Homo sapiens: one gene and its partners. The protein of the gene in region 3 purifies or fractionates together with the protein of the main gene of each other region. This does not show direct contact. Each region holds a gene or a part of one and is shown on either strand. Other genes may lie near its edges.

The links. The genes of interacting proteins can lie anywhere in the genome.
Region 1: the proteins of LRRC55 (region 3) and CLCN7 purify together in Homo sapiens (affinity purification with mass spectrometry; one large-scale study listed by BioGRID and IntAct). This does not show direct contact.
Region 2: the proteins of LRRC55 (region 3) and TAP2 purify together in Homo sapiens (affinity purification with mass spectrometry; one large-scale study listed by BioGRID and IntAct). This does not show direct contact.
Region 4: the proteins of LRRC55 (region 3) and SLC22A23 purify together in Homo sapiens (affinity purification with mass spectrometry; one large-scale study listed by BioGRID and IntAct). This does not show direct contact.

The regions. Positions count from the first base shown.
Region 1 is NC_000016.10:1,461,529-1,465,028, reverse strand, and holds part of CLCN7 (H(+)/Cl(-) exchange transporter 7), read left to right. Parts: intron 1-3,354; coding exon 3,355-3,426; intron 3,427-3,500. UniProt on the Homo sapiens protein: Slowly voltage-gated channel mediating the exchange of chloride ions against protons. Functions as antiporter and contributes to the acidification of the lysosome lumen and may be involved in maintaining lysosomal pH.
Region 2 is NC_000006.12:32,828,740-32,832,239, forward strand, and holds part of TAP2 (antigen peptide transporter 2), read right to left. Parts: intron 2,068-3,500; coding exon 1,879-2,067; intron 1,702-1,878; coding exon 1,528-1,701; intron 1,351-1,527; coding exon 1,191-1,350; intron 798-1,190; coding exon 661-797; intron 296-660; coding exon 167-295; 3' UTR 1-166. UniProt on the Homo sapiens protein: ABC transporter associated with antigen processing. In complex with TAP1 mediates unidirectional translocation of peptide antigens from cytosol to endoplasmic reticulum (ER) for loading onto MHC class I (MHCI) molecules.
Region 3 is NC_000011.10:57,180,490-57,184,752, reverse strand, and holds the start of LRRC55 (leucine-rich repeat-containing protein 55 precursor), read right to left. Parts: upstream 2,801-4,263; 5' UTR 2,731-2,800; coding exon 2,070-2,730; intron 1-2,069.
Region 4 is NC_000006.12:3,289,551-3,293,050, forward strand, and holds part of SLC22A23 (solute carrier family 22 member 23), read right to left. Parts: intron 317-3,500; coding exon 214-316; intron 1-213.

The DNA.
Region 1 (3,500 bases), on a different chromosome or scaffold from region 3:
ATGGGCAGCGAGGGGGCTGGACCTGGCTTTGGGACAGGGCAAGGACAGGGATCTTGGGGGGGCAGTGAGGAGCCCCAGGAGAGTGAGAGGGGGCCGGATGCCTCTGACTTCAGAGGGCAGGGGTTTAGATGTTCCCGTGCCAGTGGCTGCCCTGGGAGTCCTGAGCTCAGCGGCAGCGTGCTCGTCTTCCTTCCCCTCGGGGGCATCTCCCGCCGGCCTCGGTTTTTCCCCCAGCCGCTGGTGAGGCCGGGAGTCCTCTGCTGCCGCTGGCCGTTCACTCATCGTCTCTGGGTAGATGTCTGTGCGGGACTCCTGTTGAGATGATCCTGATGTTGGCAACACCCCGGGCGTCCTCCTTCTCCCCATCAGGCCCCACCTGGCTCTGCCCTGGGCCACGTCAGAGGCTGAGGCATCTCACAGTCCACCTGTCCGGGTGCTCTTCGGCCTTGCGTCCGTTTGAGCTCTGCCGCAGTCGCTCCCGAGGCCGGCGCCGTGCTCAGATGCCGTCCTGTACAGCCAGCAGCGCCTCTTCCGGGGCTGCCCTTCTGATACGTTTGTGCTGCCTCTGGAGCCACAAGGCCTTCGGAAGATCTGTTTCGTGGCCGTGGGCGCCTTCGGCACTGCCTTTTTGGACTTCAAAGCCTTTGCTCTGGTGTCAGCTTTGGGAGGGGCAGGAGTTGGGAGAGAAGGGAAAAAGCCAGCACGTGAGATTCAGCAATCAGTCCTCTCCTGTCTCAACCCTGGAGCGGGTGCCTGGCCGGCCACACGCGTGTTGGTTATGCTCATTTTTAAACTGGGTTTGTTGTCTTTATAATTGAGCTGCAGGAGTTCTTTATACATAGATGCAAATCTCTCATCCAATACATGATTTATAGAAGTTTTCTCCCGTTCAGTGGGTTTTCTGTTCACTTTCTCAGTGGTGTCTTTTGTTGCTCAAATTTATTTAATTAAAAAAGTTTTGGCCAAGGGAGGTGATTCGTGCCTGTAATCCTAGTACTTTGGGAAGCAGATGGATTCATTGAGCTCAGGAGTTCAAGATCAGCCTGATCAACATGGTGAAACCCTGTCTCTACAAAAAATATAAATATTAGCTGGGCCTGGTGATAGGCACCAGTAGTCCCAGCTACTTGGGAGGCTGAGGTTGGAGGATCACTTGAGCCCAGGAGGTGGAGGTTTCAGTGAGCTGAGATGGTGCCACTGCACTTCAGCCTGGGTGACAGAGTGAGATCCTGCCTCAAATTTTTTTTTTTTTTTCTGGGCAGGTGTGGTGGTTCACACCTGTAATCCCAACACTTTGGGAAACCAAGGCTGCAGCCCAGGATTTGGAGATCAGCCTAGACAACACAGTGAGACCCTGTCTCTACAAAAAACAAAAACAAAAACGAAAATTAGCCAGGTGTGGTGGTGTGCGCCTGTGGTCCCAGCTACTCAGGACGCTGAGGCAGGTGGATTGATCGAACCCAGGAGGTTGAGGCTGCAGTGAGCCATGATCACACCATTGTACTTCAGCCTGCGTGACAGACGGGACCCTGTCTAAAAAAATTAATTATTACTATTCTTTGAGATGAGGTCTCACTGTGTGGCCCAGGCTGAACTCCATCTCTCAGGCTCAAGCAATCCTCCCGTTTCAGCTTCTTCCTGAGGAGCTGGGACCACAGGTGCATCACACCCCGCACAGGTTGTATTGCTGAGGTTCAGCTAATCTGTTTTTTCTTGTGTTGCTTGTACTTTTGGTGTCAAATCTAAGAAACCATTGCCTCACCCAAGAGTATGACGACTGACCCGTTTTTTCCTAAGAATTTTACAGTTTTAGGTCTTTCATCCCTTTTGAGTTAATTTTTGGATGTGGTGTGAGGTAAGGGTCCAACGTCATACCCTCCCTCTCTCTCTCTCTTTTTTTGAGACAGGGTCTCACTGTCACCCAGGCTGGAGTGCAGTGGTGCAATCATGGTTCACTGCAGCCTCTGCCTCCTGTCTGTCTCCCAAGTAGCTGGGACTCAGGCGCATGTCACCATACTCAGCTAATATTTTGTAGAGATGGAGTCTTACTATGTTGCCCAGGCTGATCACAAACTCCTGGCCTCAAGCAGTCCTTCTGCCTCTGCCTCCCAGAGTGCTGGGATTATAGCTGTCAGCCATTGCGCCCGGCCCAGCTTCATTTTTGCATGTGGAAATCCAGTTGTACCAGCACCATTTGTTGAAAACACTACCTTTCTCTGTTGAAATGTTTTGACACTGTTGTGGGAAATCAATTGATCGTACATGTTTTGGATTTCTTTCTGGACTCTCTCAATTCTCTTCCATTCTTTTGTGGCCATCTTCATGCCAGTACCATGCCTGGTTTTTTTTTTTTTTTTTTTTTTGGCTTTTTTTTAAGAGTTGGGGTCTCACTGTGTTGCCCAGGCTGGGTGGATCACTTGAGGCCAAGAGTTTGAGACCAGCCTGGCCAACATGGTGAAACCCCGTCTCTACTAAAGATACAAAAATTAGCCAGGCGTGGTGGTGCACACCTGTAATCCCAGCTACTTGGGAGGCTGAGGCAGGAGAATGGCTTTAACCTGGAAGGCGGAGGTTGCAGTGAGTTGAGATCGCGTCACTGCACTCTAGCCTGGGCAAAAAGAGTGACTGTATCTCAAAAAAAAAAAAAAAAAAAAAAAAAAAAAGACAGATGAGGGTTTTACTCTGTTGCCCAGGCTGGTCTTGAACTCCTGGCTTCAGTTGATCCTCTTGCCTCTGCCTCCCAGAGTGCTGGGATTACAGGTGTGAGCCACCGCACCCGGCCTCATGGATTGATTTTTGGATGTTAAACTAACTTGTATTCCTAGGCTGAATTCACCTTGCTCCTGGCATTGCTGGAATCACTTTGCTTGTGTCTTACCAAAGATCTTTGCATCCGTGGTTGTAGGGGTGTTGGTCTGTAGTTCTCTTTTTTTTTTTTTTCTTTGAGACGGAGTCTTGCTCTGTCACCCAGGCTGGAGTGCAACGGCGCAATCTCGGCTCACTGCAACCTCTGCATCCCGGGTTCAAGCGATTCTCCTGCCTCAGCCTCCTGAGTAGCTGGGATTACAGGCGCCCACCACCACGCCCAGCTAATTTTTGTATTTTTAGTAGCGACAGGGTTTCATCTTGTTGTCCAGGCTGGTCTCGAACTCCTGACCGCAGCTGGTCCACTTGCCTCGGCCTCCCAAAGTGCTGGGATTGTAGGTGTCAGCCACCGCGCCCCATGTGCAGTTCTCTTGCTGTGTCCTTGTCCTTGGTGTCGGGATGATAATGGCCTCGTGTGTGAGCTGAGAGGGGCCTCTCTCCTTGTGGCCTTGTCAACTGTGCTTCTCTCTTTGCCTTTTTCTGCCACAGGATATGGACCCTCCACATCCCTTCCCCAAGGAGATCCCACACAACGAGAAGCTCCTGTCCCTCAAGTATGAGGTGGGCGTCCTTCTGTCCCCCTGACCCTGAGACCCGGCCTCTGCCCCCTGCCAGCCCACTCCCGGTCCCCTGTG
Region 2 (3,500 bases), on a different chromosome or scaffold from region 3:
GTGCCTGCAACTCAGGAACAGCTATCTGGCCGCACAGCTCTAGGGAAACTCAAAGCAGGAACAGCTCTGGGTCCTGGAGACGCCCCTGAGAAGAGGGCCCAGTATCCCTGGGGCCTCAGTCCATCAGCCGCTGCTGCACCAGGCGGGAATAGAGGTCCTGTCCCTCCTAGAGCTGGGCAAGCTTCTGCAGCTTGCCCTCCTGGAGCACCAGGATCTGGTGGGCGCGCTGAACTGTCTGCAGCCTGTGAGCAATCACCAGCACTGTGCGATCCCCACGGGAATTCCAGTCCTGCAGCTGAAGGGGTGATCACAGTGCCTCAGAAAGACAGGAATGAGATGGACACCACATCCACCTGGGCACCATCTCTTATGATTTAGGGTAAAGAAGGTGTGAAATAAAAGAAGGTAGGAAAGGGCAGTAGATAAAGGCCTGGACTGCCCTTCTCTCCCGGCTGTACTGCCACAGCTGGAGGAATGGAAGCCCAGGAGGGAACTGGGGCTGCCCTCACACCACCGGATTCCATTCCCCAACCCCAAGAAGGCACAGACTGTTTCCACTAGTAGGTCCTTCGTCCTCCCTCTGCCCAATTCTGCACAGTCTGATCCTCCCAGCATGCCCCTCCCAGGCCCCACTGTCCCCTGCCCTCTCACGGTACTCACGGCCTGCTCGCACTGCACATCTAGGGCACTAGTAGCCTCATCCAGGATGAGGACCCGCGGGTCTCGTACAAGGGCCCGGGCAATGGCCAGACGTTGTTTCTGTCCCGCAGCCAGCTGGCTTCCCTTCTCCCCTACATCTGAGGAAATCAGAGAAATTCCCTTCCTCAGATACAAGTGACACAGACAACACACAAGGAGGGACAAGTGCACAGCAGGTACTTCCAGTAGGACCTCGGGAGGTGGGAGGGCCCAGTGCGGGGAGGGCCCAGTGGGAGGAGGGCCATGGGGTGGGGACCTGACGGGGCTGCCCACGGAGGGAGCACCACTGCTGCATTGCTCTCTGCAAACAAAGACTCTTGATCAAGAGGGAGGCTGAAGAATTCAGTGTGTGGGGAAGGAGACGTAGGAATGGAGGAAAGGGCAGAGGAACAGCAAACATCAAGCTACAGGGACACGACCTTCACCACTAAGAGTAAGTCTGATTTTCTCTTTTTTACTGAAGGAGCAAGCTTACAATTTGTAGAAGATACCTGTGTATATTCCATGCTCCATTTCCTGGATGAAGTCATCTGCGTGGGCAGCCTGGGCAGCCGCCATCACCTTATCATCTTCGCAGCTCTGCAGCCCATAAGCAATGTTGTTCCTCACAGAACCGGAGAACAGCACAGGCTCCTGCCCAACTGAAACCACCTGTGCAGCAGGGACAGGGGCAGAGGACTATGTGTAAACCCCCAAGGCAGGGGCCCTTTTGTCCTCCCCACCTACCTCCCTCAGAATGAACACCTGGTGCGCCTTCCCGTGGATCTCCCATCCTCTCTCTGTACATGCTCCCCTCTCCTGTCCCCTGTCTTCTCCCTCCTCACCCACCTGGCTGTGCAGGTAGCAGTGTTCATACTGTGAGATGGGCTTTTCATCCAGCAGCACCTGTCCCCCTGTGGGCTGGTACAGATTCTGCAGCAGGGCAGCCACTGTGCTCTTCCCAGACCCATTGGGTCCCACCAGCGCCGTCACCTCACCAGGACGTAGGGTAAACGTCAGCCCCTAGAAAACCAGAAAAAGAGTTAAGGGCCTGCCCCTTCTCCCTCAAAATCCCTCCATTTCTCTTCTTAGCAGAGGCAAGACCAGGTTCTCAGAGGCAAATGAACTATAGGCTGTGATGTCCAATTATGCATTAGCAGCAGAGAGCAAGGGTCCAGGTTTCCTCCCTCTTTCAGGCACCTTGAGCACAGGCCTGTCAGGGCGATTGGGATATGCAAAGGAGACGTCTTGGAATTTCACAACCCCCTGCAGAGTGGTGGGGGCAAGCGTGCCAGGTGAAGGCAGATTTGGCTGTCGGTCCATGTAGGAGAAAACCTTCTCTGCAGCTCCCACGTTGCTGAGCATATCCCCATATATGTATACCAGGGTCTGGAAAACAGGAATGGGAGAGCCGGCTAATTAAACACACTTCTACCAGAAACCACCCTCCCAACTCCTCACACACTCCACTCACAACTGCACTGCTCCTCCTCCATACTCAAAAGAGATTCTCCACTTTTAAATGTACAATTTGGACGGAATTTAAAAGTGGCACCAATACCCCAGTGTTCCAATTTGCAATATAAAGGATATACAGTCCCTTCTCCTACCATACAGCATTGCCTCTAGCCCCAGATCTTTTCAGTTACTGCTTCCTATTACTTGTGCCCAGTTCTGTCTTGCTTGATTAGACGGGGAGCTCCTTAAATGCAGGCACTGTGCCCAACTCACCTTTGTAGCCGTCAGAGTGCCCAGCGCAGTTCTCTACACAAAAAAGATGTTTATCAAGTGTCTAGGAAAATGTTTAAATAAAGCCCTGGATGAAGTAGCTGTTTTTGAGAACTGGTAAATGTAGGAAGAGATCTAAATGCTCACTCTGCCTTTCCTCATCAAACTGTACCACCGGGTAATGAAATGGTAGATGAGGGGAAGTCTCCCTTCATAGACTACTTCAGCTAATACATGAAGAATGATAGAGTATCTCCCTTTTGCAGCCCTAATTCTGTCATGGATGTAGGTACTGCTCATCAGTGGCTGATGTTGCCACAAATAGAGAACCAGACATTGTGTGCCTCTTGGAGGAAGAATGCATCACCACCTAAAAAGTACTGTTGCTGGAAAAAGACCAAAAAAAACCCCTCAATCTCACAAGCTTCTAGGTTTATCTATCAATAGACAGGAAGTACAGAGGCAGAAGAGCATATAATACCACAGGGATTCAGTCAACAAAATCCAGACCCTAAGAAACTCCACAGGACAAACAACCTATTTCTTCAACAAATAAACTGTGCAAGGGAAACTTTTAGACAGATACATGGATTGATGGGTGGATGGATGGATAGATGGATGGATAGATAGATAGACAGACAGACTTAAAAGATGTATCAACCAGTCACAATATGTGGACCATTTCTGGATCCTGATTTAAGCAAAGTATAATAAACACACTCATACACATATACTACATGGATACCACAAGTGGAAATTTGACAATTGACTATTTGATAAATTTTAAGAACTACTGTTAATTTTTTGGTGTGATAATGGCTTTGTTGTTATACACTTTTAAAGATGTTTGTATTTTTAAGAAACATACTGAAATATTTACAGATGAAAGTATACAATATCTTGGATTTGCTTCAGAATAATATGGGTGGGGGGAAGTGGCTGGGGATACAGATCCAACAAGATTGGGCATGAGTTGATCATTGTTAAAGCACAGGATGTATACATGTGAGTTTGTAATATTATTTTGTCTCATTTTTGGCATATGTTTAAAATTCTCCATAGCAAAATTACTTGCGGGTTTTGGTTTTGTATTG
Region 3 (4,263 bases):
AGGCACCAGTCCTAAAGTCATGCTGTATCCCAGGGGCTTGCTTATTATGGCCCTCTTTGTTCAATTTTTCCAAAAACCATGGATAACAGTGGAGTTCCGCAAAGAAAAAGGGAGGAAGCAGCTGAAAAGGACCTAAAGGGAAGAGCATCACCTAGTTCTGCCTCCACTGGCAAGGTTTTGTCCCTAAGGAGAAGCACCCTGGTGCGTGTGGCCTGGTGTTAAGTGTGTTCTGTGGAGGAACAGGGAACCTGGCTTTCCAGCTGGGACTGCTTGCTTCCTCATCATGGGCCTGTGGACAGTCACTGTCCCCTTCTGGAGCTCAGGTTCCTCACCTGTACTGATGTATGTGTGAGCCTACACTGATGAAATCTTGGACCCCTCTCCTGCTCGCTGGGAGTCTGAGCTTCTTCAGAGCAGCAGGGACCTCAGAGATCACAGAAAAGGAGTCCCTGGGTGTAATGTAAGCTTAGTGCTTTGGGTGCCCTTTCTGTTATTAGTGCACAGGAGAGAGAGGGAAGGCGCGCCTGCCAAGTTTGAGCAAGTTGAGAGATTGCTCCAGGCATCCTCCCACTCCTGCCCTCCACCATCGCCCCATCCCAGTCCCCAGCTATTTTGATGCAAGAGAATTTCCTCCTACAGCTCTGTGGAAACACTGGAATCGTGACCCACAGCCCTCCCCAAACTATTTTGGTCTTGGGCTCCCCACTCAGTCCTCCTCTCCCTTTTACCACATTCAGCATTGCTTCTTCTCAACATGGGCTGAGCTCAGGTTCTGGGAAAGCCCCTTGGATAGGGCCTTCAGCTACTACTTCTGGGTTCTTGTGCCAAGTCTTGGTGTTGTCACACAGGAGAGCTGGTGGCTAGGGCCACAGCTGAACATTGCCTGCCTCTGGGTCAGGCTCAGATGCCACTGGGTTGGGATGCCCATCAAACCTATGTGATTTGGGCTTCTTCAGGCCCCAGTCCACCCTCCAGTTGGGATTGGCTGGTTGAGTTGCCGCATCTCAGTCTTCCTTTCAGCTCCCTACCCTGTGCCCAAAGTTTACACTGCTCAGGGCCTTGAGTTTGAGGAAAGCCAGGTTCTCGTAGCTGAGATCCAGGTCTTGGAGCTGCATGAGGTCCTGGAACTCTACTGCAGCCCTTTGGCCAGTCCAGGACTCAGGTTCTGACTCTTCCGGCAGGCCAGAACCTGACTCTTCAGGATATAGTCAGGGAGATTGCCAGGACTCAAATCCTGGCTTCAACACTTAGCAGCTGTGTAACTTCCAACAAGCTACTGAACCTCTCTGTGCCTCAGCTTCCTCCTCTGTAGAGTGGCAATCTCATTAGTGTTCTTCTGGGGATAGGAAGAGATAGGTAAAGCTGCTTAAGAGAGGGCCTGGTAAATAGCAAGTACTAAGGTCTCAAGTTCCTCCTGGAACATATTGGCTGTCACGCAACTTAAGCTATTGCAGCTCTGTTGAGATTGTGTTAGTCATTACTATTTATACGAGAGTTTCCAACACTTGGAATGCTAAAAAAGCATTCTGGTAGATTAGAACAGGGCTTAGAAGTCAGATAAATCTAGGTTTTATTCATGGTCCTGCCACTTTTTAATTTTTTAATTTGTATTTTTTTCATGGCCCTGCCACTTTCTAAGTGTGTGATTCCTGTCAAGCCTTTTTATTGTTCTAAATCTCAGTTTCTTCACCTGGAAAATGGGTATAATAAAAATGGGGGTCTCATGAGATAATGGATGCCAAGATCTTAGGTCATGGTGAAAGCTCAATAAAAACCACCAACCATAGGCTATTCTCACTTGTCTACTATCCGTCTGCCTCATTAGGTCATGAGCAGCGCAGTGGTGAGGGACATCTATTTAATGAATGAATGGGCCCTCGGTGCCTCACATGCACTGGAAGGATTCTACAAACAACCTGTTGGCCGAGCTGGTGTACAAAGAGGCAAGCCCACATTAGAAAATGCAGTAGGTGCTTTCTGGCTCTAAGTTCCCCCGCTTTCTTTGGAGCCTTTGCTTCCCATTGAGGCAAGCCCTCCCTGTTGACTGCCCCGTTCTGCCCCTCTATTACCTGCTGTACAGCGCTGGATCCGGTTTCGCAGCCACTTCAGCAGGGGTTCCATGGTGCAGCCACACACCCAGGGATTGCCACCGATCTGCAGGGTCACCAGCCCCGGTAGGCCCTCAAGAGCCTCCAGGCTGAGGAAGGCCAGGCCCCCATAACTGAGGTCCAGGTCTCGGAGCTGCATGAGGCCCTGAAAGGCCTGGGGATGCACCCTCCGCAGCCAGGGGTTGTGGCTCAGGTCGATGTGGACTAGCCCATGGGCCTCCTGGAACATGTCGGCTGGCACATGGCTGAAATTGTTGTAGCTCAGGTCCAAGTGTGCCAAGCGCTTGGCATGGAGGAAGAGGCCCCGGGGCAGCTCCATTAAGGAGTTGTTGTGCAAATCCAGCACCTGGAGCTCCATGTAGCATGTGAGGTAGCCAGGCGGCACTGCTGTGATGCGGTTGTGGGCCAGGCTGAGGTTTCGGGTGTCCATTGGCAGGTCTGGGGGCACGGAGAATAGCCGCTGGCTGCTACAATCCACCACCTGGTTACGGCATGTGCAAAGGACGGGGCAGCTGGTGCCGGCATCCGAGTGCATCAACCCGGCTGCCAAGAGGAGGGAGATCAGCAGCATTGCTGGGTGGGGTGGCCCGGGCCAGGGAAGCTGGGCCCAAGTGTCACCCATCTTAGGCAGCAGGCAACAGCAGTGCTGGAGGGAGCCCATGAGGACTGTGTCCATGGAATCGAGAGTCTGTGACACAGGAAGGCAGCTACATCTGGGGCCAGCGTCTGTGAAGGTGGGGCTTCTGAGCATGTGGTATCATGGCTAGGGACTTTCCCAGGAGCCTCTGAGCACCAGAGGGCTTCCTGAGATCCACGGGAGGTCCCCTTCCGGAGCCTAGGGGGCAAGACACCCAGTTGAGGTCCCCTAGGGTCTGGAATGATGATCAAAACCTGAGAAAGGGAGGGGACAAGAATGGGGCTAGGTCAGCTGCCAGCAAGTCCTGGAAGAGTTCCTGCAGATCTTTTGTGTCTCTCTCACCCATGCCTGCTGGATGTTTCCTCTTGGTGCTGTGTCTGGGAGGGAGGGGCTGAAGGAGATGAAACGTGCCCTTTAAAGATCCTTGGCACTTCTTCTGAGAAAACTTAAGTCCTGTCCCACGTCTGGGACTGATTAGGAAGCCGGGGCTGCACCTGGGTCTTCAGTGTTGAAGGTCTCAGAGGCCATTTGTCCTGGTGGCCTGGTGGGCTGGAGTCCAAGGGGGTCCCAGGGTGGGTGTTTTGGGAAAAGGGCCCGGGAGGAAGTGAGTCTCCATGGGCCTCCTAAAAGCCTGAGAGTCCTCAGCCTCAGTGGCTGCTGGAATCCCCAGGAAGCCTCTTTTTTTCCCAAAGAGAGGAGGACCCCAGGTGATGCCCACTGTCTGGGCCTCTGGGGCCAGAAGAAGTCATGAGTCCTGAAGGTGCAGGCTGAGTGTCAGCTGGCAGAGCTCTGGCATCTTCTCCAAGCCAGTGCCTTCCTCAGCGCAGTTCTGTGTTCAGCAGGTGGAGGCCAAATTCCCTCTGTCAACAAGGAAAGCACTCAGGCAGAGAAATCCTGTGCCCTTGACACTCCCTTGTCCCTTCACCTAGGACGCTTGGCTTATCTTTGTCTCTTTCCTTTGCTCCCCCAACCACAAAGTTCTCTGCTTACTGTCTGTCAGGTGTGGGCCATGGTAGGTTCAGACCCCAGGCTCACATTGCTGTTACCCACGAGCCCTCCCTGACCCAACCTGCAGCCATCCTCCTCTGGGTTCCTGTCTTGGGTTAGATGCATTTTCTTCTTCTTCTCATAACCCCACCCTCATTAGTACCAAACACGCCACCCTTGAACAACTCCCTAAGAAAAATCTGCATCCACACTCTGGGGGTTTGCACACCCCTTTCAAACACTCTAAGCACTCCTCTCTCTCTCACACGCACACACACACACTCACTCACACACCATTCTGTGACTCCCCCGTATTTTGCCCTGCCCCGTGCTCACGCCTCGCGGTTTTCGCTCCAGCTTCCTTCTGCACAGGCGATTCTGCAGACCCCTCCCCAGTCGACCCCCAGCATCTTTCGCCCCCCTCTCAGCGCACACCCTTCATCCCAGCATCCCTTTCCACACACTGCACTCTCCTCGCCGCCCCCAGCAGAGGGACCGAGAGTGATGCCACGCCCAGAGCCTCAGCCCTCG
Region 4 (3,500 bases), on a different chromosome or scaffold from region 3:
CAGGATTTACACGCCTGGGCTGGGGGGCACCGGCTGCTTGAGGCTTCCGGGAGCGGGGGAGGTCAATATCTTCTAGCCCGTGTCACTCTTCACACACACACCCTTAGGATTCCAAGTTCAGCGGGGTGGGGAGCAGGGCCCTGGGCTTCACCACTCCCCACCTTCTTCCCTGGCCCCCTCCCACCCAGCTGGCACTTGTCCTCTGTGACTCACGAGTTCACACACAGGACCACAATGTTCTTCCACAGGTTCCGTGTCCCCACCACCTTCACGATGCAGACCTTCTTGGGCCTCCGGGAAAGCTCTTTCTCCAGCTCTGCAAAGAAACAGACCCTGTGAGCCCTGGGCAGGCCGCCCACAGAGGACAGGACAGCAGCTGCAGTCACAGCCCTGGTTCCCCAGTTCGGGTACCACAGAAGGGAGAGAGAAGCTTTTTTTTTTTTTTTTTTTTTGCCAGTGGATAGGGTCTAGGTTTCCAGGATAGAAAGGCACTCATAAGACCCCAGCTTTGCAGTTCAGGTTTCGCTCGGGTGCCTGAGAGGGCACCAAGGTGCACCGTCAGCAGAAGTTTCCATCACAAACCCTTGTTTTGGAACCAGTCAGAGTGCACACAAACGGTCTCGACTCAGTTCACTTTTGTCTGAGTACAGAGCTCAGCGATGATATTCTAGGTTACTGAGGCACTCATTAGGCCCTGGGCAAATCTAAACATGCAGTTCTTTTCCGTACACTCTACATCTGCCTGTGTCACCCCCGGCTCGGAGACTGGGAAGGCCACATGCAGATATGCTTCTTAGCCTTGTGGGGTGGAACTATGGCTGTAGCTACTTCTGCTGAAACTGCCCTTAGGACATCATATGCATCTTTGAAAGCCAAATACATAAGTGAACACATCTGCGTGTATGTGTATACACCATACATGCACACATTCATACGCATGCATATACGTGTGCATGTTTTAGTTAACAGAAGTCCTTGGGGGCTGGACAATATTTTGGCTCCAAGGGATGTGAGCAACTATAAAGTCATGAGACTGAGTTTCTTGTGCGGCTCCAGCGGCTCTGAAAGCCCCTCTGAAGGGAGTCCACCAGCGCACAGTGTTACATTCACCAGGCCAAGGGGTCTGCAGAGGTGCTGGTGTTGATCTGGCAATTTACAGGGAAGATTCAGAATGGTGGGGGTGCTGGCCTCCAGGAGCTGTCTGCTTGCACGTCTGGGAGCAGGAATGCCACCTCAGCCTTCTGTTGCCTCTCTGCCTTCCTAGCCTGGCATGTCTTCATGGAGTAATCCCCTACTGGGGAGCTAAAAAAGAAAAGGGAGACTTCCCGAAGCGGAGGGGAACCAGGACTCTTCAAGACTGTCAAGGTCACCAGAAACAAGAAAGACTGAGCAGCTGTCAGACCAGGAGACTAGGGAGAGGGGAGGACAAGACGCAGTCCTGGGCGGCATCCCGGGTGGGAGGAGTCGTCATGGAAAGCACGATGATGGGAGGCACCAAATAAAGGCTGGGGTTTGGTGAATGGTAGTGTTCCAATGTCACTCTTTTAGTTTCGACAACAGTACCACGACAGTATCAGACATTCGCAATCTGGGAAGTCGAGTACTGGGAGGTCTGTCGTTGCCTCTAGAGGGATCCTTCTGCTCCCTCGGGGGCTGTGTCTCCAGGACCCTGGCCCTGTGCTTCCGAGGGCCACTCTGAACCCTGGATGGCTCAAGTTCAACCCTCCTCTTCCACCTCCTTCCTGCCATCCAGCGGTAGGAGGGTCACAAAGCTCTTTCATTATAGTTTGAAGAAAAAATGTGTTGCTAAACCGTAGGGATTTGAATAAAGCAATGATGTTTTTATTCAAACATTGTTTTTGAACTGAGTGTCACCAGCCAGGGCACAGAAGGGAGAAGGAGAAACCTTTCACTTGTCTGAGGGAGCTCATGTCTACTGAGTTTCCAGAACTTTCTCCCTTGCCATACTTGGGTGCAAAGATTGAGGTCTGTGTGTAAGCCCACAGGGCCGGCGTTTCAGCTGCTGGTCCACGGACCCTCTCAGCTCCCAAGGTCCATTATTTTTCCTCAGCAAAAATGGGCTACTTTGACTACAGGCACAGTTTCTCCATGGTTAAAATAACTAATTTTATAAAGAGCTTGAAAATATCATGGTTAACAGAAAACCTTGGATCCAATGATCTGAATATCTTTGCTATTATAGAACTCATCAGAAACCAACTGTAATAGCTACGTTTTCTCACCATGGAAGACTTCCGAGAAGAAAATTTCAATGTCCATTAGCAAGTCCATATAAGTTTAAAGTTTTAAAAAGTATATACCCCAAACTGAACTCCTGATATGTTATTGTTTACTAAGTATGATGTTAAAGAAGCAATAACAACTGCATTATGACCTGAGCTTTTTAAATAAAATTAAACCTAGAACCCAGTCTAAAAAATTGACTGTAGTCTGCAGAGGTAACTGAATTCTTCTAAGTGGAATTAGATTAACCTTTCCAGGGCTATTGATATGTTTTCAGGAAGCACATGAAGCGCTTCCTCCCATGTCTGGCAGAGTCACTGTCCAATGACTTTGTGCTTATCTTACTACCAGTTACTCACATCACCAGCCTGTCAACAACAGCATGAAGCTTCCGCAGCATTATATCTGTTCTTCTGGGCCTCAAATCCTCGAGTGCTTCTGGAGGCCGTGCCGAGTTCTCCCATCCGGCCCTCAAGGCAGCGCTCTATGTTATAGGACACTTCAGATGGTTCTAACACCCTCAATGGTAGCTGAATCCAAGAGGCCTTTTTGTCTGTCCAGGTATCAGATGGACATCTAGAGACTTCTCTAAACTCCTCACACATGGAAATGAATGGGCAACAGGGAGCCCGGCCAGGTTGTGGGACACTGGCATCTAGGATTTGCTGCTGCGAGCACCCAGCTCCCATGCTCTCCTCGAGACAGAGGAGGAGGAGGACACATCAGCCTGCTTGACTTAGAGCCATCAGAAAATTTTCCAACCAAAACCCACGTCGAGCCGACTGAATTTTGATGAGCCAGGTATGTCCAAGGCCATCCTGCAGCCCCTGTGCCTCCACATTTTCACGGATCCCCGTGTGGTCGGGGCTGAGGTCTGGGTGCTGTGAGGGGCCCGATGAGCCTGGGCAGGAACCCAGCTTCTGCACTTCCGGCAAAGCTACGCTCTCCTTGGAAAAGCTACGCTGTCCTTGCTCTGAGCCCAGCTGCTCGTCTGTGAAGTAGGATGAAGCGCTGCCTTGAGGGCCGGATGGGAGAACTCGGCGCGGCCTCTGGGAGCACTCGGGGAGCACGTGTCTTCCCGCCCCGTGCTCAGTGAGCCCAACATCTCCCAGCTTCTCTTCACCAACAGAGGGAGGGAAAGGAGGCCCTGATGACCCTGCTGACCCGCTGGGAGGAGGGCACGGCCTCTCCACATTTGGCCATCTGGTGTGAGAGGTAAACCAGGCCTCCGAGGACAGCAGAGGACGCAGTGGCCA